2 separate regions of the Homo sapiens genome follow, and region 1 is linked to region 2. The links come from fine-mapping of genetic effects on gene expression. Tissue or cell type: tibial artery. Region 2 holds a variant in brackets; the other region holds the start of a gene. All regions are shown on one strand. Distances are from middle to middle. Region 1 holds the start of TMEM170B (transmembrane protein 170B). Region 2 overlaps LOC105374928 (a long non-coding RNA gene).

Region 1 (12,113 bases), 21 kb before region 2:
CTTAACCTGAAAATCCGAAATCTGAAATGTTCTAGTATTTCCTTTGAGTGTCATGTTGCTCAAAAAGTTTAGGATTTTGGAGCATTTTGAATTTCAAAATTTCAGATTAGGAATGTTCAACCTGTACCGTAATATTTATTCTCTCTCGACCTGCCTGAGTTAACAAGCTATGTAGGAGAAAAAGGAAAGGCAGAGAACAAAGGTCCAGGAAACTCTGGTTCCAGTCCTGCCTCTGTCATTAAATAACTGATCTCAGCCATGTCACTTCACTGATGGAGTGATATTTCAATATTTCTAAAATTAAGTCGTTCTGGCTGTAAAATGTTAAGATGTTTGTAGTTCTCATTATTACTTTTTAAGAATTTATTTTTATCAAAGTAATATATAAACAAGACTACTTTCTAGAGGTCAGTCTCTAAGATAAAAAGGTCAGTATATTTTCCCACTTCACCTATTGGGATAATACACAAGGTGAAAAATCACATCACATCTCTTTGTACATGGGAAAAAAACACTAGTGACAGCATATTTCCCTTTCATTTGGTATCCAATTAATCAGAATGCCTATTAAGCAAATTTGTGCAAATCCTTCACACAGTTATTTCTTAAATCCAAGTAGTACTGGTTCTAGACTATGCTCCTTTCTATTAGTTTCATTTCCAAGTTTATGATGACGAAAAAATGCCTTCTGAGTTAACATATGTGTTATCATATTATGAAAAAAGATAATGACTTTTTCACTATTAGCTATCAGATCTAAGCAAGTTACTCTTTGCTTCAGTATCTGAATCTGTAAAATAAGAACAATAATCTCTCAGGATTGCCTAAAAGATTAAACAAAATATATGAAAGCATTATACCCAACACAGAAAACTACTCTCAATAAGCATTTGCATGTTTTAAAGGTATGTATAAAAATGATTTATATGAGTTGCTTAAACACTTCATTCTTCCTTAACAGCATATTCACTCCAAGAGATGCAGATGAGAAACAATGCAATATAGAATGTTTAAATCAAGCAACTGTTAAAATTTTAAAAATTCATCTCAATAAACATATATTTATCATTTACTACGTGCCAGGTACTATAATGCTAGGGTATAAGAATTCAAAGGTGAGGCAATGGACTGACCCTCAAAAAGCTCACAGTCTAGAAGAGATAAATACAAATTATAACGTAATTGAAAAACATAATAAAAATATGTACAAAGAGCAGAAGTAGCAAGATGAAGCAAGAAATTAATTTTGCGTGAAGAAAGTAAGGAGGAAGTAGCTGAAGTAGCATGGTAAAGAAGAAAGAGGAGTCTAGAGGCAAAGACTTGGGTCTAAAGCCCAGCTCAGTCATATACTAGCTATAAGATTTGGGACAATTTAATTTACCTCTCTGAGTTTCCTTTCAAATGTACTTTGAAGAGTTATTCTGAAGATTAGAAATAATATATGTAAAGTGCCTAACACACAGCGGCCATTCAACAAATGACAGATGTTTCAGAAGTTGTGTTTACTCGCCTCTTTTGAGCAGACAAAGTTGTAAATGGCACTGTAGGCAGCATCTGTTAACTAATGATTAAGATACACACCAAATCACTAAGGTCACTGGCATGGAGAAGGCCACAATGAATCCCATCAGAATATTATCACTTATAGACTGCCACTGTTGAGAAGAGATGTGGTTCCTAACGTGGTACACTCTACCACTAGTGAAACATATTTCTAATCTGTTTCTTTCTGCATTTTTATCCTGACGCCTAGAATTTCACATATTCAGACAGTAGTTATTTCCTAGTAGAGGTTCCCATGGTCCTCAGTCCCGCCTCAGTCCTAGTTTGGGATGTTCGGCATATCCTTTATGAAATGGCAAGGTCCAATGAGCAACTGGCAAGTATTAAGATCATATTGAAAGACATATTGGAGCTAACCCTGGATGAATAACTACTATTATCAGCTTAATGGTTGACTTGCAGAACTGGAGGCAATTATAATCATTAGAATCTTACTTATTTAAAAATATTGTTGAAGCTGGCCAGGAGTTAAGTTACATTTACATTTACTCTATGGCTCCCAAAGCTAACTTTCTCTAAAAACCCTTTGATGAGCTAATCCAGTGATTAATATCTACAGGCATACCTTGTTTTATTGTACTTCACTTTATTTTGGCTTTTACAAATGGTAAGTTTGAGGCAACTCTGTGTCAAGCAAGTCTATCAGTACCATTTTTCCAACAGCATGGGCTCACTTTGTGTCACATTTTGGTAATTCTAACAATATTTCAAATTTTATTATCTTATTATTATTTTATTATTGTATTTTATTATTATAGTGATCTGTGATAAGTGATCTCTGATGTTACTATTTTACTCGATAATTTACTCGATAAATCTTGTGTGTTCTCACTGCTCCACCAACCAGCCATTCCTCAGTCTCTCTCCCTCTCCTCGGGTTTCCCTATTCCCTGAGATACAACAATATTGAAATCAGGCCAACTAATAATCCTACATTGGCCTCTGAGTGTTCAAGTGAAAAAAAGAGTCAGATATCTCACTTTAAATCAAGTGCTAGAGATGATAAAGCTTAATGAGGAAGGCACGTTCAAAGATGAGTTAGGCTGAAAGCTAGGCCTCTCGTACCAAACAGCCAAGTTGCAAATGCAAAGAAAAATTCTTAAAGGAAATTAAAAGTGTTACACTAGTGAACACACAAATCATAAGAAAGCAAAACAGACTGCTCTCTGATATGAAGAAAGTTTGAGTGGTCTAAATAGAAGATGAAACCAGCTACAACACTCCCCTAAGCCAAAGCCTAACCCAGAGAAAGACCCCAACTCTCTTCAATTCCATGCAGGCTGGGATGTGAGAAAGCTGCAAAAGAAAGTTTGATACTAGCAGATGTCAGTTCTTTAGGTTTAACAAAAGACACCTCTATAACATAAAAGTGCAAGGTGAAGCAGCAAATGCTGATGTAGAAGCACAAATTATCCAGAAGATCTAGCTAACTGATGAAGGTGGCTACCCCAAACAACAGATATTCCATGTAGATTAAACAGCCTTATATCAGAAGAAGATGCCATTTAGGACTTGCACAGCTAGAGAGAAGTCAATCCCTGACTTCCAAGCTTCAAAGGACAGGCTGACTCTTCTTAGGAGCTAATGCAGCTGGTGACTTTATATTAAAGCCAATGCTCATTTACCATTCTGGCGCCCTTGAGAATTATGCTAAATCTACCCTGGCTGTGCTCTATAAATGAAACAAAAAAGCCTGGATGACAGTACATCAGTTTACAGCACGGCCTACTGAATATGTGAAGCCCACTGTTGAGAACTGCTCAGAAAAAAAAAAGATTCCTTTCATTTTAATGAGTATTTTCTTCAATGACAATGTACCTGGTCAACCAAGAGCTGTGATGGAGATGTCCAAGTAGATCAATGTTGTTTTCATGACTGCTAACACAACATCCATTCTGCAGACCATGGATCAAAGAGTAATTTTGACTTTCTAGTCTTATTATTTAAGAAATACACTGTGTAAGAAGGCTAAAACTGCCAGAGATAGTGATTCCTCTGATGGACCTGGGCAAAGGAAATTGAAAACCTTCTGGAAAGGAGTCACCATTCCAGATGCCCTTAAGAACAATCGTGACTCATGAGAAGAGGTCCAAATATCAACTTTCATAGGAGTTGGAAAGCAATTGACTCCATTCCTCATGGATGACTTTGAGGGGATCAACACTTTAGTGGAGGAAGTAACCATAGGTGTGGTCGAAATAGCAAGAGAACTAGAATTAGAAGTGGAGCCTGAAGATGTGACTGAATTGTTGCAATCTCATGATAAAGTTTGAATGGATGAGGAGTTGCTTCTTATGGATGAGCAAAGAAAGTGGTTTCTTGAGATGCAATCTACTCCTGGTGAAGATCATGTGAACACCGTGGAAATGACAACAAAGGATTTAGACTATTAGATAAACTCGGTTGATAAAGCCGCAGCAGGGTTTGAAAGGACTGACTCCAATTTTGAAAGTTCTACTGTGGATAAAATGCTACCCAACAGCATCCCATGCTACAGAGAAATCTTTCATGAAAGGAAGAGTCTATTGCTCTTCCTTAGTGGCAAACTTCATTGCTGTTTTAAGAAAACTGCCATCATCCCAATCTCCAGCAATCATCACCTTGATCAGTCAGCAGTCATCAACACAAAGACAAGACCCTCTACCAGAAAAAAGATAACGTCCTTGCTGAAGGCTCAGATGATCGTTAGCAATTTTTCAGCAATAAAGTATTTTTAAATTAACGTCTGTACTTTTTTTTCAGACATAATGCTATTTCACATTTAAAGACTACAGGTAAAATGTAACTTTTACATGCACTAGGAAAACAAAAAATTCATTTGGCTCACTTTATTGCAATATTTGCTTTATTGTGGTGTTCTGGAACCAAACCTGCAATCTTTCCAAGGTATGCCTGCACAAATATATGTTAAGTCCCTACTTTTCATTTCACTTAAACAAAAACTGGTACAGTTCAAATACCAAACAGTGGATAAATGCAAGCAAAATCATAAGTAAGATAAAGCAGTCTACCTCTAAATTCAACTGAATCATGAGATGGTCTTTATGTCCATTTAGTTTTCCAGAATTATAACAATATATTCCTTACCGGCAATCATCATGTAAAGTCAGTCTGTTTCAAGTTAAATAACCACAGCTTAAAAGTGAGGATAGCATGAAGCAATCCAGAATCTACTTTAACTGTATAGTTTCCATTCGAAGAAACCAGTGTCCTTAAAGTTGTCTTTTGTGGTATATAATTCCATAAAATTTTCTTCTATGAATGTTTGTATTCTATACCATGCCAGACTTTATATATATGTTATATATATGAACCCAGGTTATATTTGTAAAATACTCACAACACTTTAACCAGTTTGACAAAATGCATTTTGAAATACTAATGTTCTACTGAAATTAACTGCCTTACACATTTTCAAGAATTAAATTCTGAGTATTTTTTTAAGATTTTTTTCCTCTGAAAAGCAGGCACTGAGGAGTCACCAAATCGCAACTGAATCTCTTTCTCGTAAATTCTACTTCAGAGAATAATTTTTAAATTCGGAACTCAAAGTATAATGTAAGCATTTCCACATAACAAAACCAGAAGTTTCTTCACAAAGCAAATCTACAGACTGAATAAAAATATTGTGTGTTTTATCACTCACTTTTACAAATAGAAATTGATGTTATAAGGCCAATTACTGACAGCCTTAATAAATGAAGGGAAATACACAAAATTATCAAATGTCTCAGAAGCAGCAGCTGGAGGCCTGAGGGAAAGAGACAGACAGACAAAAGGAAATGGGAGGGGAAGGAGATATATGAAGCTAACACGCTTAGACCGCACTAGACCTTAGCTCAGCCCCTGACCCACTATAATTTACTCAGTTATCTACATCGCCCAAAAAATTAGCGGTTGAAAAAGTAAATCGACCATTGTGGGCAATGATTTTAGGTTCTACATTTGGCTTGAGATTTGCCAGAAAGAAAAAGAACTAAATCAGAAAAAGATGTAAATAGCAAGAAGCGATGTGTGTAGAAGGGGGAGGGGAGGAGGGTAATGGAATAAAAGCGAAATGCGCTCAAGTCTCAGCACTAAAGCTACTCCGCGCGTACTACAGAGGCCGGGCCGCCACCGGGAGCTCTCCCCGTGCGGGGCAGGAGCGGGGGTCGCTGATGCTCCCCTGGCGACTCAGGGAAGGGGGTGGCGGGAGCCGGCGCCCCCGGGACACGCGCAGAGTGGCTCCGATTAACACCTTCCTCGCCGGGACCTGGAGCTCCGAGCGGGGCGCGCACGGGGGTGGGGCGGCGAGGAGCGTGTCCCCTCCCGAGGAAGGAGAAGACAGGAGAGGGGCGGACCGCATCCCCGTCCCCAGCCCAGGCGCGTCAATTACCCGTGAGGTTCCTCAGCACCGTCCCGTGGGCCCAGAGGCTCAGGACCTGCTGCACCGACAGGTTGATCATGGAGTGGTCGCCCCCCTCCGCCTTCATCTTCCCCGAGGGGCGCCCGCCGCCCTCTCCTCGGGTGCCGGGCGGCGGCGGCGGCTGCGAGGCTCGGGGGGCGGCGGCGGGTGCGCGGCTCCTCCAGGCCGCCGCCGCTGGTGGAGGCTGCGGGACGCCGGGCCGGGCGCTGCTGCTGCTGCAGCCGGAGGGCCTCCGTGGGGGGGCCGCTCAGCGTGTCTCCCAGGCAGCCCCCTCCCCGCCGGGGAGACATTGAGGACGGCGGACGGAGGAAGGAGGGGAGGGGGCCGGGCGCCGTCCTCGCGCGGCCCCCGAGCGAGGACTCGGGGCGGAGGAGGCCGCCGCCGCTCCCTCTCAGGGGCAGCGCCGCGCCGCGGGGACTGGACACGCGAGGAGGCCGAGGTCACGCCAGGAGGCCGGTGCTGATGGGCAGCCGGCAGGTGCAGCCCCCGACAGGGCCCAGCTCATCGCCGCCGGAGGACGGAGACGCGGGACCAGCCAGAGGCTGCGGCGGCACCTGCCGCCCGCCTGCCCGCCCTCGGGTCGCCGACACTCGAGGAACCGCCCCCTCCACCCGCAGCCGCCGGCGGGCCACTCGTGCACGCGCACGCGCGCGCCTCTCAGCGCCGGCCCCTCCTCCCCTGCGCTCCCCGGAGCCGCTGCGCATGCTCACTCCCCCGCTCCCCGCGACCCGCCGCCCTCCAACAGCCGGTCGGCCCCAAAGCCCTCCTTCTCGCTCTCCCCTCGCGCTGCAGCGCGCGTGGCTGACGGCGCCGAGCGACGGCCCGCAGTGGGGCGGAGGGAAGCGCGGTCTACGTCACTGGCGCCACCGCCGGGCCTTACTGCTGATTGGGCGCTCCAAGGGAACCGCCTCCACGCCCCCCACCCCCGGACCCCGGGCGCGCGCCCTGAGAGACCGGGAGACCTGGATCCCTCGCCCTGGCCCGGCTGGGTGCGCGCGGTGCGGGCGGCGTGGGCGGTGCGGGCATTTCGGGGGCCCGCGCTGCAGGGGCAGCCCTGACCCAAGGTGGGGCTGCTGAACTCGGTGAGGTGGATACTGTGACAGTTCAGATTTTTGCCTTAAAATGTAATGCTTTTTGATAAAGATGCTTATGTATAACTTTTTTAAAAAGGTGTCACTATCTCAGCATTTAGATATATTAATTTGCGGGGTTTTTTTTCTGAGCCTGAATCGAATGACCTGGATAGGTCACTTACTTGCAGAATGCATGTTAAAACCCCTAAAACACAAACAGACCTGCGTTATCATTCTGCTAATCCCTCTTCCCGCAGCAAGAACTTGGGCCTCCCGGGGTTCCAGGACCTGCCTGACATTACCTGTTTACTCCAGGCTCGGCAGGTGTCCTAATCCTCAAGGCCATCGCCGGCTCTAGCCCCCCTTTTTTTGATGGTAGTATTCTTTTATCTAAGTTGCGTCTGTTATTTTTTTCCCTCGAACTTAAACTAGATCTCTCTCCCCACGCTTTGCTGTCTGTCTTCATGTCCAGCGTTAGCCAGAGGAGCATCTAAAATCCAACTACAAGTTAAACTCCTCGAAATTGGAAACCTTCTAACTTTAAAAAATAAAAATTTAAGTTTTAGCAGTAACATAAATATGCAGTAGCCAGCCCCTCCCCCCACCTTTTTTCAACCCCTCTGCCATCTGGATAAAGAAAAATTTACAAAGAGAAGTGAAGAAATACCTGCTGTAGCTAAATCATGAAGTATATTTGACAAAGCACTGAAGGGTCAAATTACCTGTCAAATGGTGCTCTTGGTGACCACTTTAAAATAATATTTACATACACATTTATTTCTTTGTTTATTTGTATTTTCTTTTTGATGTCACAACATAAGAGAAATTTTTGCACCATTAATAGGAATTGAGCCAAAACTCTTAATGTAGAGTTTATCTTCCTCCTAGAATTTAGACTTAATTAGATCTATTAACAAGATTACAGAATATCAAACCTAAAAGAGCGCTTTAACATTTTTCTAATTTTATTTTACAGATAGGGAAACAGATTCTGTGAATTAAGTGACTTGACAGAGATGACAGCACTTCACAGCTCAGTTTCTGAATTCCTGGTCTATTATTCTTTCTAGCAACCACATTATCTTTCTTAACCCACTGTTAACTCCCTCACTTTAAGATTCTTGATGGGGAAGTGCAGGTTACCTAATGATATTCTTAAGGGACTTGGCATTACATAATTAGTGATGTTAGGGAATGTGACCACATTCAGTGAAGGGTTCACAGCAAACTCCCTGAGCAGGGGCTCATTAAACTCTCATATCAGAAACCTTTAGTTAGTTTACGTTCTTAGGATTGCACACTATTATTTAAAACACAGTAGCACGCAGTGAAAATATTCAGAACCTGGGACAGTGCCTGGCACCTGCACCACAAATATTTGTTGAATGAATCACTGAATGATCTTCATAGAAAAGTCAGCATTGTTCTTGTTCTGAATAAATATTTTTTACAGAATCCAAGTGTTCATGTCAGGAAATGAGAAAGACACAGCAATGAAGTCTCAAGTCAGTAATGTTATTTGCTGCCCAACAACTTCACCCCTGCTGTTCAGTTCAATTTAATTGGCGTCTATATTTATTTGGCATCTACTATCTGTAATGTTCTGTGCAAGGTGTTATCTGTAACATTTGAAGATAAGATCTCTACTCTCTAGGCTACTTAGGTTTTCCTTGATAAAAGTAATGATCTTGACTGTGTTGGAAGCTTATATCCTTAAGAGAATTAGACATTTTCCCAACAGCCAGAGTTATGAAACCCAAAACTGAGTTAATACAAATGAAAGTTTTGGAATTTCTTTCCTACAGATTTTTTATTTTGAATTAATACACCAATTCAGGAAGAGTTTAGTCACGTTCCTGTCAGAAATCAGGGACCACCCCAAGTGAATCCAAAAATTTCCTTTCAACTCTGTGCCCTTCAGCATGAAACAATTCACAAACGTAATTCATAAACCAAAATTCCTGGTTTATTTCTCTCATGTAAGTGAGGGAACACCCATTAGCCTTAGTCATTTTTAAAACTGTCCAGAGACAACCTAGAGGAAAGCTTTTTAAAATCAATTAAAATATAAAATGATATTGATCTTTTGAGAAAAACATTTTCAGGTATCTTTTCAGAAGCACCCCACTCTACTGGTATCAACTTAACGTATTAGTCCATTTTCACGCTGCAGATAAAGACATACCCAAAACTGGGCAATTTATAAAGGAAGAGGTTTAATTGGACTTACAGTTCCATGTGACTGGGGAAGCCTCACAATCATGGTGGAAGGCAAGGAGGAGCAAGTCCCGTCTTACATGGGTGGCAGCAGGCAACGAGAGAATGAGGAAGACGCAAAAGTGGAGACCCTTGATAAAACCATACAGAGCCAAATTATATCATTCCTCCCCTGGTCCCTGCCAACTCTCATGTCCTCACATTTCAAAATCAATCATGCCTTCCCAACAGTTCCCCAAGGTCTTAACTCATTTCAGCATCAACTCAATAGTCCACAGTCCAAAGTCTCATCTGAAACAAGGCTAGTCCCTTCCGCCTATAAGCCTGTAAAATCAAAAGCAAGTTAGTTACTTCCTAGATACAATGGGGGTACACGCATTGGATAAATACAGCCATTCCGAATGGGAGACATTGGCCACAACAAAGGAGCTACAGGCCCCATGCAAGTCCAAAATCTAGACTGATTCAGCTTGATTCAGCTCAGTCCAGCTCCACAGGTCTTCTCATTTCATACCTGAGGCTGAGGAAGATGTCACGCTCTGAGTACATGCCATTCTCATGGTATAGGGCTGGAACCAGGGCTACAATGGGACACTGGCCTTGCCTGCAAAGCCTTGCCTGCAAGTCTTGACAACAGACTCTGAAACACTCTGTTATCAAGATAAATAATATACTAATATAATATTTTTAAAAATAAAAATTCATGCAAAAATCCATGATTAATGAAATACCAAAATTTTAAATAAACACAGAATCTCACCCTGCACTTGCAAGACCTTGTCTCACCCACCTCATCCTTATCCCAGCTCTGGCATGGACAAGAGAGGCAGGGCTAAACTACACAGGTGCATTTAAAGTTCATGCTCAGATATGGGGTCCATGTCACATGCATGTCACATATCCACATTCCCTTGTTTGAAGCAGATTGCATAGTTAAGCCCCTAAGTGAATGGGATAAAAAAGTATATTCTGCCTACAGAGAAGGATGGAAAGAATGAATGGGAGGGGGCAACAAATGGTAATGAACAAATAATGCAGTCTTAACACAGGCTGAGTGAGGTTAAGTCTTCTACAAATAATATATTTCAGCCTATATTTCTGTGTACTTTTTGTAGTTTGCGCTTTACGAATTTTGATTCTATGTGTTTTAGTGAACACATATGTATGTAAGATTTGTGATTTTGCTTTCTTAAATTAAAAATATATTAATTTCCATTATAAAATGCTTTTAAAATTTATGTGAATCTTGTCTGATGTTAAGGTCTTAAGTCCTGCTTTCTGTTTGCATTTGCCTGATATGTATTTTTCCATTCTTTTTCAACTTTGAATAATTTTGTTTTAGGAGTTTGACATCGTATTCCAATATGAAATTTCTAATTTAATAGAAGAACTTCTAGATAATTTCTAGTCGTTGATATAATAAATATGTGGTATTACTTGCATCATAGTTATATTATTATTTCTATTTTTGTTGCTTCTTTTAAAAAAGTATTTCATGGGTATGGTTTGTGTTTCCTTTGCTTTGTTTATGTTCCTTATAATTTGAAAGGATTGGTTTTGTTTTTGTATTTTATAGTAATCTCTGTGACCATAACTGATATACACTTCATCCTCTGTTTAGAATGTATCTAGTGACCATCCACTCTCAGCAATCCTAAAATCATATAACTCCACTTCCTTATAACCTCCTTTTCCTCCCCTTCTCCATCAGATTTAAGAGTATATATTTTTTTCTATTTCTTACTTCTACAGCTAAACTACCTAAGTTTTAATCCTGATTTTATTGCTTTACCAGGAGTGAACATTCAACATTCAGTGAGTTACTTAACCTCTGTAACTTTCAGTTTTCTCCTCTGTAAAATTTGAACTATAATATTCTATTATATGTATAATATATCTGTTATTCATTATAGATAGTATATATTTAATTATAATATTTCCTTGAGATATTCTGAGGATCAAAGTACTTAGTAATTAAGTGCTTAGAGTGGAGTCTGGAGCAGTAAATACTCAATGAATACTAGTTTTTATTACTGTAATATTTAAATATTAATAGATTTTTTAGAACTGTATGGAAATGGCAATCTTCTAAATAATTATTTATTTTAAAGAACAAGCAGAAAGAAATTGTGAAGGATTTTCTTGATGGGCAAGAATCTACCTCTTTCCCACCTTTTTTTTTTTTTAGTGTGATGAATTCATATGACTCAAAACTCTCATGATATGACGTGCAATCAGTGAAAATTCTCCCCCGACCCCTGGCTCCCAGCCACTTAGATCCATGCTGTCTGGGAGTCACCTGCCCTTCCTGGGCCATAACACTGTTTCCTTTAGTAAAAGTGTGGAAAGTGATGTTTGGGCATGAAGAAATAATTTAATGTAGGGTGGAAACTATAGTATTAAGGAAAGGTAAGTGATAAAATTGAGAATACAGGAGAAATGAAAGTTTAGTGACAAATGCCCATTAAAAATAGCCCTATTCTTCTCCCAAACCTAGACCATTTACTAAACATTGGTAAGAAAATGGGTTTCAGGGGCTCCCAACTGTATGCAGCATTTTAGTTAGGGAAAGAGTATTAGTCAGGATTCTCCCAGAGAAACAGAACTAATAGGTTGCCTATGTATAGAAAGACATTTATTATGAGAAGTTGGCTCACACGATTATGGAGGCTGACAAATCCCAGGATCTGCAGGGTGAGTTGGCAAGCTGGCGATCCAGGAGAGCCAATAGTGTAGTTCCAGTCTGAGACTGCATTGCCTGAGAACTAGGAGAGCAATGTTTCCGTTCAGACACTTAGGCAAGAATTCTGCCTGCCTTGGGGGAGCCTTTTTACTCTATTCAAGTCTTCAGCTGA
Region 2 (12,113 bases):
AGGTCACATTCTGATCTGGGAAGGACATGAATTTGGGGGACCATATTCAACCCAGTGCACTGGGACTTAGATACACTTCTACTCGTTAAGTTGTACAGTTTGGGTGGAACCAGGATTCAGGTACTGTGACCATCAGAGCCTGTCATCATAACTGCTTCACTATTTGATGTGACCACTGGCCCATCGCCTTGCTGCTCCTCCTTCATCCATGTGATCCCGTTTCCAGTCCCAGATTGCCATTGAAACTCTTCTCCTAAAGGACCTCACCTTCTGGATCATCCAGCTTCTTCCTGCCCTAGTGGTGACATCCTCCTCCTTAGCACTCTGCTCCCTTGGTTCTCTGGCCACACTCTGAGTCTCACACTCCAGACCGGGTGTTCCCTCTTGCGCTTGCTCATCTTACTCATCCTATGTCCTAAATGTGGGTGCTTCCCAACTCACATTTCTCTGTCCTTCCCTTCACATTCTTTCTTTCTGAAATCTCTTCCATTCTCAGTTTCAGTTGTAACTTCTATGCCATTGGCTCTCCCTTCTGTGTCAGTCTGTTTCTCCCTGCTGCCCTCTCCCCTAAGCTCCAGCCTCATACCTTCAAACTCCTGCTAGACAAGAAGTCCTACCATCATCTCTAGCCCAGCATGCTCAAGCCAGGTATTTTTCTTCCTTGAAAAGCTTTCATCCTGTCTCACCATATGCACTGACACACATGTCCTGGCCCAAGTCCTTGCTGTCTCATGGAAGGAACACTACAGCAATGCCCTAGTTAACTGGCTTGATGCCAGTCTCCACCCTTCCAGTGTGTCTTGCATAACCTTGACCAACTAATCTCTCCAAACCCAATTTTAATTCTTTTATTCCCTGTGCTCAGCCATTCCCTATGTTCTGCTGCTTCATGTTTACACTCCTCTGACATCTCTTTATCCACCATCTTCACCCAGTATAATTTCCCATGGCTTCAATATGCACTTGTACTCTAGTTAGGCATTGCTTCTCTGCAAAACTGAGCATATTCTCATTTCTGTGCTGTGACTTATGTTATCCACTCAACCCTTTATCCTCTCCAATCTTGCCTCTTCCATCAGGCCCCAGATCAAATCTCACCTCTTCTATGCAGTTTTCTCTACCATTTCAGGTTTCATTCATTTCAGTGGAGCCTCAAGGAAAGAATAACAGAAAAGTGGTCAGAAATGCAGGATGAACTTGCTCTCTCCGTGTCCTCTGTTCTTAGCTTCTATGTTTATATTTGCTCCATCTTTCTCTCTCTCATCTCAGAACTTCTAAAAATCAGCATACACATTACTCTGAGCTGTCCTGTTTTATTAATTGTTGCTTTACGTCTCTTCTCAACTATTTTATCAGACAAGTGAGGGCAAAGGCCACAACTCATCTTTTTTTCCCTTAATAGCTATACCACCTAACACAATATTGAATACTTACTAAACAATTTTCACTTAATTTACTTAATACAATTTCACAATAAGTTGAGTGGAGTTTCTTACAGAAGTGCCAAAAAACTGTTTCTGAAACCTAATGTGTTCTAGACACTAGTTTTCTAAGCCAAAAATATTTCACTGAAGGTAGACAGAGTCTGCAATGTGAAATGTGAAGATAATTTTCTCAATCATATAAGCAAAAATTAGTTTTCAGGATATTTTAGAGTTGTGTTAATTCTCTGCTATCTTCAGTTTTCTAGAAAAATTCTTAAAGCTATAATAAACAAGATAAATTATATTGGTAGTACTGGAAAATTTTTATTTAGCAATGTCAGTGAGTGCTATTCTTTTTGTCTTAATCACTAAATATATGTCACATAAATTTATGCTGAACCCATGCCAAATTTCTGAAAATAGAACTCACTGACATTCAAAAGACAAAAAATACTCAAGTGCTTCATTCCCACAGTATTAAAACTATTGTCTATATTGTAAATAATAGTAAGGCAAACAAAACCTGATTTCTTTTCCGTGAATAACAAGAAGGAATTAGAACTTTTTGAAAATGAATCTGAAAGGCTGGGCACAGTAGCTCACACCTATAATCCCAGCACTTTGTGAGGCAGAGGCGGGTGGATCACCTGAAGTCGGAAGTTTGAGACCAGCCTGACCAACATGGTGAAACCCTGTCTCTACTAAAATACAAAAATTAGCCAGGCGTAGTGGCGGGCGCCTGTAGTCCCAGCTACTTGGGGAGGCTGAGGCAGGAGAATTGCTTGAACCTGGGAGGCAGAGGTTGCAGCGAGTTGAGCTTGCACCACTGCACTCCAGCCTAGACGACAGAATGAGACTCCGTCTCAAAAAAAAAAAAAAGAATCTACAGAAGTCACTGAATGTCAAATCATAATCATTTTCTGACAATCTACTCTCTCTAGTCAGGAAAATATACATAAAAGTTTGACACTGAACTTTTATGAGAGCAGAAATGGTCTAAGTAGTTCTAGGTTCAGCACTTTGGTGAGTGCGCAGGAAGCACCAGAAGTTTACAGCTAAAATGGACTCTATCCAGAATCTGTAAGGAACTTAAAACAACTCAACAAGAAATAAAACAAGTAACCTCATTAAAAAATGGGCAAAGGACATAAACAGACACTTATCAGAAGAAGACATATAAGTGGCCAACAAACATATGAAAAAATGCTCATCATCACTAATTATCAGAGAAATGCAAATCAAAAGCACAGTGAGATACCATCTTACACCATTCAGAATGGCTATTAAAAAGTCAAAAAATAACAGATGCTGGTGAGGCTGTGGAGAAAAGGTAATTGCTTACACGCTGTTGATGGAAATGTAAATTAGTCCAGCCACTATGGAAGACAGTTTGGAGATTTCTTAAAGAACTTAAAACAGAACTACCATTTGACTCAACAATTCCATTACCGGATATATACCCAAAGGAAAAGAAATCATTCTACAAAACAGACACGTGCACTCATATGTTCATCACAGCAGTATTCACAATAGCGAAGACGTAGAATCAACCTAGATGCACATTGATGGTGGACTGGATAAATAAAATGTGGCACATATATACCAGGAAATATTGTGTAGCTGTAAAAAATAATAAAATCATGTCCTTTGCAGCAGCATGGCTGCAGCTGGTGGCCATTATCTTAAGAAAGTGAATGCAGGAACAGAAAACCAAATACTACATGTTCTCACTTATAACTGAGAGCTAAACATTGAGTACACATCAACATAAAGATGGGAATAGTACATACTGGAGACCTCTAGAGGGAAGAGGTAATGGAGCATGGGTTGAAAAATTACCCATCGGATACTATGCTGACTACCTTGGTGATGGAATCATCCATACCCCAAACCTGAGTACCATGCAATACACCCATGTAACAAGGCTGCATTTATACCCCCTGAATCTGAAATAAAAGTTGAAATTATTAAAAATAAATAAAATAAAATGTACCCTCAGATTGAGGGAATAGATAAAAGAGGGGCTATCACCATGGGTGAAGCCAAAAGTATATGGACCATGATTAAGGCTGGTTGGTTGTTTGTAGGAGAAAACCTCCCACAAGCCACATTAATTTTTGTATTATTTGAGCCTTTTTAACAGAAACTCAACTTGACCAAAAAAAAAAAAGAAAGGTTGGGATTTGGGTATTATTATTATTATTTTTGAGACAGAGTCTTCCTCTGTCACCCAGGCCAGAGTGCAGTGGCACAATCTCGGCTCACTGCAACCTCCGCCTCCCGGGTTCAAGTGATTCTCCTGCCTCAGCCTCCCAAGTAGCTGGGACTATAGGCACGCACCACCATGCCTGGCCAATTTTTTGTATTTTTAGTAGAGACAGAGTTTCACCATGTTGGCCAGGCTGGTCTCGAACTCCTGACCTCATGATCCGCCCTCCTTGGCCTTCCAAAGTGCTGGGATTACAGGCGTAAGCCACCATGCCCGACCTGCAGTTGGGTATTATTAATCATTATAATGATTGAGGGGTTTCACAGAATCAAAAGGCAGGAATGAAACTGGAGTTCTGGAAGGAAGTGAAACCAACAACTGACAGCTGACAGAATCCAGGAAGTACGTTTGTACATCTTTGCTTCTCCTTTTTGCATCTTCTCCTATCTTCTTTCTCCTTAAAGACTTCCTTTCTCTGGTCTTCAGGCTACAAAGTGGGCTATGGCTGCAGGACACATGAAGAGACAAACTTTACTCTTGGACTTAATTTAGAAATTCTTGGGTGAGAGCCTAATTGCCCAAGTTAAATCAGATTGCCAGAACTTGAACAATCAACTGTGGCCATGGAACTGATTATCTACTATAAATTTGGTTGCCCAGAGACTGCTTCTGTGGTTTTAACCATAATGTGGAAATGTTCAGTTTTGTGACTTGCCCTAAATTTCATCAGGGGCAAGGGAAGAAAGGAGCATGCACAATAAACTTAATGTGACAGTAGATGACAAAAACAAATTTGTTTCATAATTAATTCCTTGAGTCATGCTTGTTTAACATTAAAGTTACATTTTGGATAGGGGATTGGGAATAGAGTTATTTTCATAAAAGAACAGTCATTATAAGTTTGGCAGATACTTCAGAAATAGATGTCTATTGGAAGTACAATTCGGATATAACTTAAAATTAGAATTTATGTCTTCAGTAAATGAAAATGCAGAAATCATGAAATGAAAGCTAATATTGCCATAGTACATGAATACAAAAGTAACTGAATCTCAAGAAGTCTTGAAAAAAATTACATGCAAGTTAATATTAGGTTGAAAAATGCATTATCCAAATGTTTTTTTCCCCTGTCTCCTATGGTTCTTGTGTGAGATTATACAAATTTTATGACATCATATTCAGAAGATTAGGAAGACCACTAGAGTAATATACTGTGGGCAAAAGAAACTATTTTGGGAAGACTACCTCAAAATGTCACTTTTGGTGATTTCTGGGTTGTGTGATGACAAGGAATTTATTTTTATTTTTATTTTTACTTGATATGTTATTTTTGGAGCTGTTGTTGGTGAAAATCTGTTGCTTTTATAATTTAAAAGGATTATTTTTATAAGAAGAAAAAGAGTACCCCTGCAGTAGAAATATCACTATATTAGTGGAAACAGTGCTTTGATTAGCTGATACTACATTACCAATATGTAAATAGGAAAGGATAACACATCAGATTACCATACCAGACAAAAGCATTGATGAACATTCAGATTCCTTTTGCATAAACTTTTCCATTTGAATATCCAATTGTTTCAGCACCTTTTGTTAAAAAAAATTTTCCTTTGCCCCCAGTATAATTACTTTGGTGCGTCTGTTGAAAATTAATTGAGTGTGTAAGTGTGAGTCTGTTTCCGAGCTCTCTATTCTGTTCCATTGATATTTGTTAGACCTTATGCCAATACCATATACTATCTTGATTAACTTTAGCACATTTTGAATTCAGATAGGGTAAATCTTTCAATTGTCTTTTTCTTTCTCATGTTCATTTGGGTCTTCTAATCCATGAACATAGTATATATCTTCATTTATTTGGGTTTTCCTTAATTTATCTCAACAATGTTTTGTAATTTTTAGTGTAGAAATTTTGTATGGTTTTATTTAATTTATTTGTAAGTATTTTACATATTTCTAATTGCTATTGTAAGTGGATTTTTAAAAATTTTTCAATTGTTTGCTGCTAGTACATAAAAGGACGATTGTGGAGTATTGGCCATGTATCCTGTAATATTGTTAAATTTGCTTATTAGTTCTAGTGGTTGCTTATACGTTCCTTAGAATTTTCTACATCAACAAACATTATATTCTTTATTTCATTTTCTTGCCCTATTTCATAGGCTAGGACTTCTATTACAACATTAAGAGGGTACATCTTTGCCCTGAGTCCAATCTTGAAGGGAATACGGTTAGTCTTTCACCACTAAGCATTATATTAACTATAAGAATTTCATAAATATCCTTTATCAGGTCAAGGAAATTTCCATCTTTTCTTAGTTTACTTAGTGTTTTTTTAGGGTTTTATGTATGTATTTATTTAGATTTAGAAGATACAAGTTCAGTTTTGTTACATAAATATATTGCATAGTGGGGAAGTCTGGGCTTTTAGTGTACCTGTCATCCAAATAGTGAACATTGTACCCAATAGGTAATATTTCAACCCTATCCTCCTCCCACCCTCCCACCTTTACAGTCTCCAGTGTCTATTATTCCACTCTGTATGTTCATGTGTACCCATTGTTTGGTTCCCGCTTAGAAGTGAGAACATGCAGTATTTGACTTTCTGTTTCTGAGTTATTTCACTTAGGACAATGGCCTCTAGTTCAATCCTTGTTGAGCAAAAGACATAATTTCATTCTTTTCTATGGCTGAGACGTAATATATATGTATATATAATATGATATTCTCTTTGTCAAATCATCCATTGATAAATACTTAGGTTGATTACATAACTTTACTATTATGAATAGTACTGTGATAAACATATGAGTGCAGTTGTCTTTTTAGTATAATGATTTATTTTCCTTTGGGTAGATACTTAGTAGTGGGATTGCTGGATCAAATGGTAGTTCTATTTTTAGTTCTTTAAGAAATCTCCATACTGTTTTCCATAGAGGTTGTACTAATTTACATTCCCACCAACAGTATATAAGTGTTCCCTTTCTGCTGTATCCTCATCAGCACTTGTTGGATTTTTGGCTTTTTAATCATGGCCATTCTGGCTAGTGTAAGATGATATCTCACTGTGGTTTTAATTTGCATTTCTCTGATGATTAGTGATGTTGTGCTTTTTTAAAATATGTTTCTGGGTCACTTGTATGTCTTCCTTTGAACATGTTAAGATGTAAACCCAACAAATGAATGTAAACAACCAGATGTGGAACATCTTTGGATTACTTTCTATCCAAACTCTAATTCTGTCTTTATGGCCACATAAAAAAGACGAAATCTACATTGAAATCTCGGTTTGGTGAGTTCACAGTTTCTGCTGCTGGTTGGTAATTTCCTTAACTACCCTTTCCATATTTCTAACAATACACTAA[A/C]ACACCCATTAGTCAATGGTCAATCCTGTGCTTTATTGTAATATTTTATAAAATATATTCCTTCTCCTCACACCTCCTTAACATTTACTTTTTAAAACAACTGGTAACTTAATAATACCTGGTAATTAGATTCATGACATTATGCTCAAAATTACTTTACTAAAATATCCCTAGCTTGCCAACAACAGAAATGGAATGTTCTTTTAATGCTAAATTCTGAAAGGAAAAGTCTTCAAAGAAAGAAAGTTCAAATAGTGGCCACTCAACAGCAGGTTTTTAGTGTTTAATATATTCAGTGAAAGGTCCGTGGGTAAATATTCAGTGATTAAGTGGCCAAAATACAACTCACAGCTTTTCCTCTAAATATCAGATATAAAAAGAAAAACTATTAGGCATTTTCAGTGGTTTTTAGGTACTTGTAGGAAGTTCTGGCTTTATGTATAGCTTTTTTATATATGTGTCTACTGTTAAATTAAGATCCTATTTTATATCAACATTTATGTTAAGCAGTGTAAAGTTACTTGACCTCTGGTCCGTTGAAGTGCTTCTTAGTTGTGGTTTGAGACACTTTCATCCAATTTCATAGCTTTCATTCTCAAACTTCATCAAAAGGAAGAATACACAGGACCTTCAGTAACATGTAGACAGTAAGAAAAAAAAACTTTAAGTGAGATAAATAGGGAGTTTTATACGTGGTGGGTGGAAGCTCTTTGTCTTTTTTTCTGCGTTTTGGCCTTAACCTCCAACAATGAAGGTTGGCAGAGAATGTATCAGGATTGAATAAGTCAGCTGAGTACACATTGGCATGGTGTTCAGTGTAAGCTGTTCTATGACCGAGGCCACCAGTGAACTGCTTTTGACTGTTTAAGAACATTTAGGAACTGTGAGGTACTGTTCTAAGAAAATGTCTTTAAGGTCATGGATAATGTGCCTCATGGTGGAGCACTATTTCTTTATAGTAATTCTCTGTGGTTAATTTAGATTCTAGATTATCTTGCTGAGCCTTGAGGAATTTCCCAGCATTTCAGCATCAAGTATGGTTGTCAACCCTGCGGCTTCCTCAAATCAAAATTTACAATAAATGTAAATATCTTCAATCTCTTTCTGCAATGCAACGCTGCAGTCAAGCTGCCTATTGCAAAGAAGACATCAGAGGTGTGGCCCTGGAGATTTTTTCCAGATGGTCTTTCTGAAAATAGGATACTTTTATGAACAACAATTTATAATTAAATCAAAACATTAATGCACTACAGAGAACAAAAGCTCAACCAGCTATAAAGGTATTCCATCTAACATTTGTGTCAACCTTTATATCATCTAAACACAAAACAATTGCTAGCAAAAACATTTCAAAAGCATCATGCATGCCTGTACATTGTGAATAGCAGATTTCCTTCAGTTCATTTGCCTTTTCTTTGTTGTTCTGAAAGAGGACAGACATTATATTATTGAGCTCTAAAACTCTTGTGATCAACAGAAAAAAAGAACATCTTTAATTGCTCCCAAAGCAATAGATGATCCTCCCACAACAGAAAACTGATTTCGACTTCTGCATATTTAAGGCAGAGGAAGAGCAAGGTGTGGAGATATGTTGGGATTATTTCTCTAAAGTTCTAGTTACCATGATTGCCATTTTGAAAGAAAGTCTACTAGATATAATCTAAGCCAGGTCACACCAGAATTCCTTGTTCATTTCCCACTTCTCAGTTATTGTAGTGTGACATTTCACAGCCAAACTTCCTGCATCAGCTTCAGGAGGGAGAAATCCCACATCCTTCTCTCTGGCCCTGAGATTCATCAGTGAGCCTAACCAATACCGGTGATTGCTTTTTCTCAGCTATGTCCTCCATATTAGCGACAGTAGGAAAGAAGTGAATCTCTCACTTCCCCGTTTCTTCCCAGTGCAGCTCTTGTAGATCTCAAGCACCTGTTTCTGTTGTGTTTTCAAACTGAATAATGTGTTTCAAAGAACTTTCTCAGGACTGCCTCACCAGAAAGTACCCTGAACTCCAGCAGTGCTTAAACATTAAAAGGAGAAAAGAAACCCTTTGAGATTTGGTCAGCCTCATTTTCATCCAAAGGTGTATTTTGTAAAAACCAAACTTCAAATAAAAATGTTAAGTGATCTTTGTTTTTATTCTCTTCAAAGTTTAGGGGTGAAATGCCTTCATTTTGTTCTTCACTTTCTTCTTCGGCATTGGAGTTCTGTGTATTGCTGTTGTTTCTTTATTGGTTTGTTTCTATTCAGGAGTTTCATCATTTTTTCCATTTGTGTCCTGATTTAATTATCACAATTATCTTATTTATTTTCAATGTCCACCATGTGGATTGTTCAGATGACCAGTAAAATCAACCATTGCTGGCATAGCATAATTGCAAATAACTCTTCTGTAAGTACTAGTTTTATAAATCATAGAGTTCTCAAAGTGTTTGACAATAATGTTTACTCAGCCAATCAGGTGTTTTACCTTGTAAGTTAATTTTTCTACATTTCTTCACCCACCTCAGGCTTCTTTCAAGGTCTTGTAGTAACCTGAAGGCCAGATTGGGCTTCATTTTCTTCCATGTGCAGTTGGGAACTGCATACAAGTTTGATGTTGTAGCCCTACCAGCAAGCTAGCCCGCACTCCCTACCCGCAAACTCAGGCCCTCCTGCCTTCCTGTTAGTGATGGGGAAAGAAAATCAACTTAACATGACTCGTGTTTTCATTTTCTTTATTTGAAATGTCTGTGTCAAGTTTAGTATCAGGATCAGGCTGACTTCATAAAATGCACTGGGATGTGTTTCTTCCTCCTGGGTTTCTGAAAGCATTTGTGTAAAATTGTTATTTTTTTCTTACCTAAATGTTTAACAGAGTTCAGAGGGAGATTTTGATAACAAATTCAATTTCTTTTATATATATAGGACTAGTTAAGAATTTTTATTTCATCTTGTGTCAGTTTAGTAAGTTGTATTGTTCAGAAAATATGTCCATTCCTTCTAAGTTGTTGAATTTATTAGCATACACTTGTTCATGTTTGTTGGATCTGTAATATATTCACATACTTATTCCTGATATTGGTGATTTCTCTTTTCTTCTGCATGTCAAACTTTAATGTCATTTCCCCTAGAAAAACCCCAAAATGTTTTATACCTATTAATTTCCTCTATCATTTGTCTGTTTTCTGTTTCATACTTTCCTCCTCTTATAATATCTTTATTGTTTCCTTCCTTCTACTTTCTTTGTTTTTGTTGTTATTGTTGTTGTCTTGAGGCAGAGTCTCACTCTGCAGCCCAGGCTGGAGTGCAGTGGCAAGATCTCACCTCACTGCAACCTCCAACCCCCAGGTTCAAGAGATTCTTCTGCCTCAGCCTCCCAAGTAGCTGAGACTACAGGCATGTGCCACCACGCCCGGCTAATTTTTGTATTTTTAGTAGAGACAGGGTTTCAACATATTGGCCAGGCTGGTCTCAAACTCCTGACCTCAAGTGATCCTCCCACCTTGGCTTCCCAAAGTGCTGGGATTAGAGGCATGAGCCACCACACCCGGCCCCTCTACTTACTTTGGATTTACTTTTCTCTTCTTTCTCTGGATCTTACTGTGGAAACAAAGGTCATTCATTGTATACCTTTCTTCCTTCCTATCCTAAGCATTTAAAAGGTATAAATTTCTCTTTTAGCACTACTTTAGCTGTATTCCACAAATTTTGATATATTTTCATTATCATTCAGTTTGAAATAGTTTTAATATGTCTTATGACTTTTTTCTTTGACCCATGGATTATAGACAATATGTGTTTAAATTTCCAGATATGTGAATTTTATCCTCCTTTGACATCTTATTGTTTTTGGTTTCTAATTTAATTCCACTGTGGTCCAAAAACATTGTCTGCATTATTTTAATCTTTAAAATGCGCTGAGACTTGTTTCATGGCCCAGCATTTCGTTTATCTTGGTAAACATTACATGTTACTTGAAGATAATGTTTATTCCGCAATTGTTGGGTGTAGTGTTCTATAAATGTCAATTAGGTAAAGGAGAGTGAAGGCATTATTCAGATCTTTTATCTACTTGTTCTGCCAATTGCTGTTATTAAATGTTAAAATCTCCAACTATATTACATAAGCAGAATAGGCACAAAAAATCTCCAACTATCATTGTGGAGTTGTCTCTTTCTCCCTTTAATTATGTTACTCTTTCATGTCACGTATCCTAAACCTGTTTTATTAGGCCCATATACATGTATAATTATTGTGTCTTTATGCAAATTTATTCATTATTACAGTATGTCTGTTTTTACTTTTTGTCTTGTGGCATCTATTACATCTGATATTAATATAGCCAATCCAGCCCTCTTAGGCTTACAGTTTGCATAATAAATCTTTTCCTGTCATTTGCTTTCAACATATCTGTATTTTTATATTTAAAGTTCATCTCTAATGGAGAAACTATGTTGAATCTTACTCATTTATCTCCTTTGAGAATTTATGAATTCTAATTGGAGCATTTAGTTCATTTCCATTTAATTGAATTATTGACAGAGTTGAGTTTAGACCAACAGTTTTACTACTATTTTCTGTTGGTCCTGCCTGCTTTTTGTTTTTAAATTCTGTTACTACTTTCTCAATTTTTTTTGTTTAATTCAATTTTTTTGAGAATTATTTTTTAATGAATTGTTGGCTTTTTAGTTATATAACTTTATATTGTTTCAAGTGGTTGCTCTAGGGGTCATAGTTTACATTCTTGATTTTTCACAGCCTACTTAGATTTAATATTGGACCATTTTGTGTAAAGCAGAATCTTTCTGAAAATAGAGGTTCATTTACTTCTTCTGTTTTGGTTGTCATATGTACTTCATCTAAAAATGTTATCAATCCCACAATACAATGTGGGGTTTAAAGCAAATATAGATTTTTCTTTAGTCATGTTTATTTATAACAAATTAGGAGAAAGGGACAAATCTTAATATTTAGCCACCTATATATCATTTGGGGCACTGCATTGTTTTCTAAAGACTGAGTGTCCACCTGGCATTAATTCCTTTTGCCTAAAGAACTTCCTTTGTGTTTCTAGCCAGGCGCTGTGGCCCATGCCTGTAATCCCAGCACTTTGTGAGGCCAAGGTGGGCGGATCA

The links.
Region 1: TMEM170B starts here. The variant in region 2 is fine-mapped to the expression of TMEM170B in tibial artery (GTEx, PIP 0.99).

The regions. Positions count from the first base shown.
Region 1 is chr6:11,532,200-11,544,312 of GRCh38, reverse strand. It overlaps TMEM170B (transmembrane protein 170B), which reads right to left and starts at 6,564. Exons shown (of 3, transcript NM_001100829.3): 1 at 5,939-6,564. The coding sequence starts at 6,035. RefSeq lists silencers at 5,611-5,890, 5,901-5,980, 6,081-6,240, 6,271-7,100 and an enhancer at 5,770-6,271.
Region 2 is chr6:11,511,669-11,523,781 of GRCh38, reverse strand. It overlaps LOC105374928 (a long non-coding RNA gene), which reads right to left. Exons shown (of 5, transcript NR_187824.1): 5 at 1-1,151. It also overlaps the pseudogene THAP12P5. Among named protein-coding and RNA genes, the nearest start is that of TMEM170B, 20 kb to the left of the region's middle. RefSeq lists an enhancer at 8,680-8,729. The variant A/C (reference allele first, on the strand shown) is at 6,999.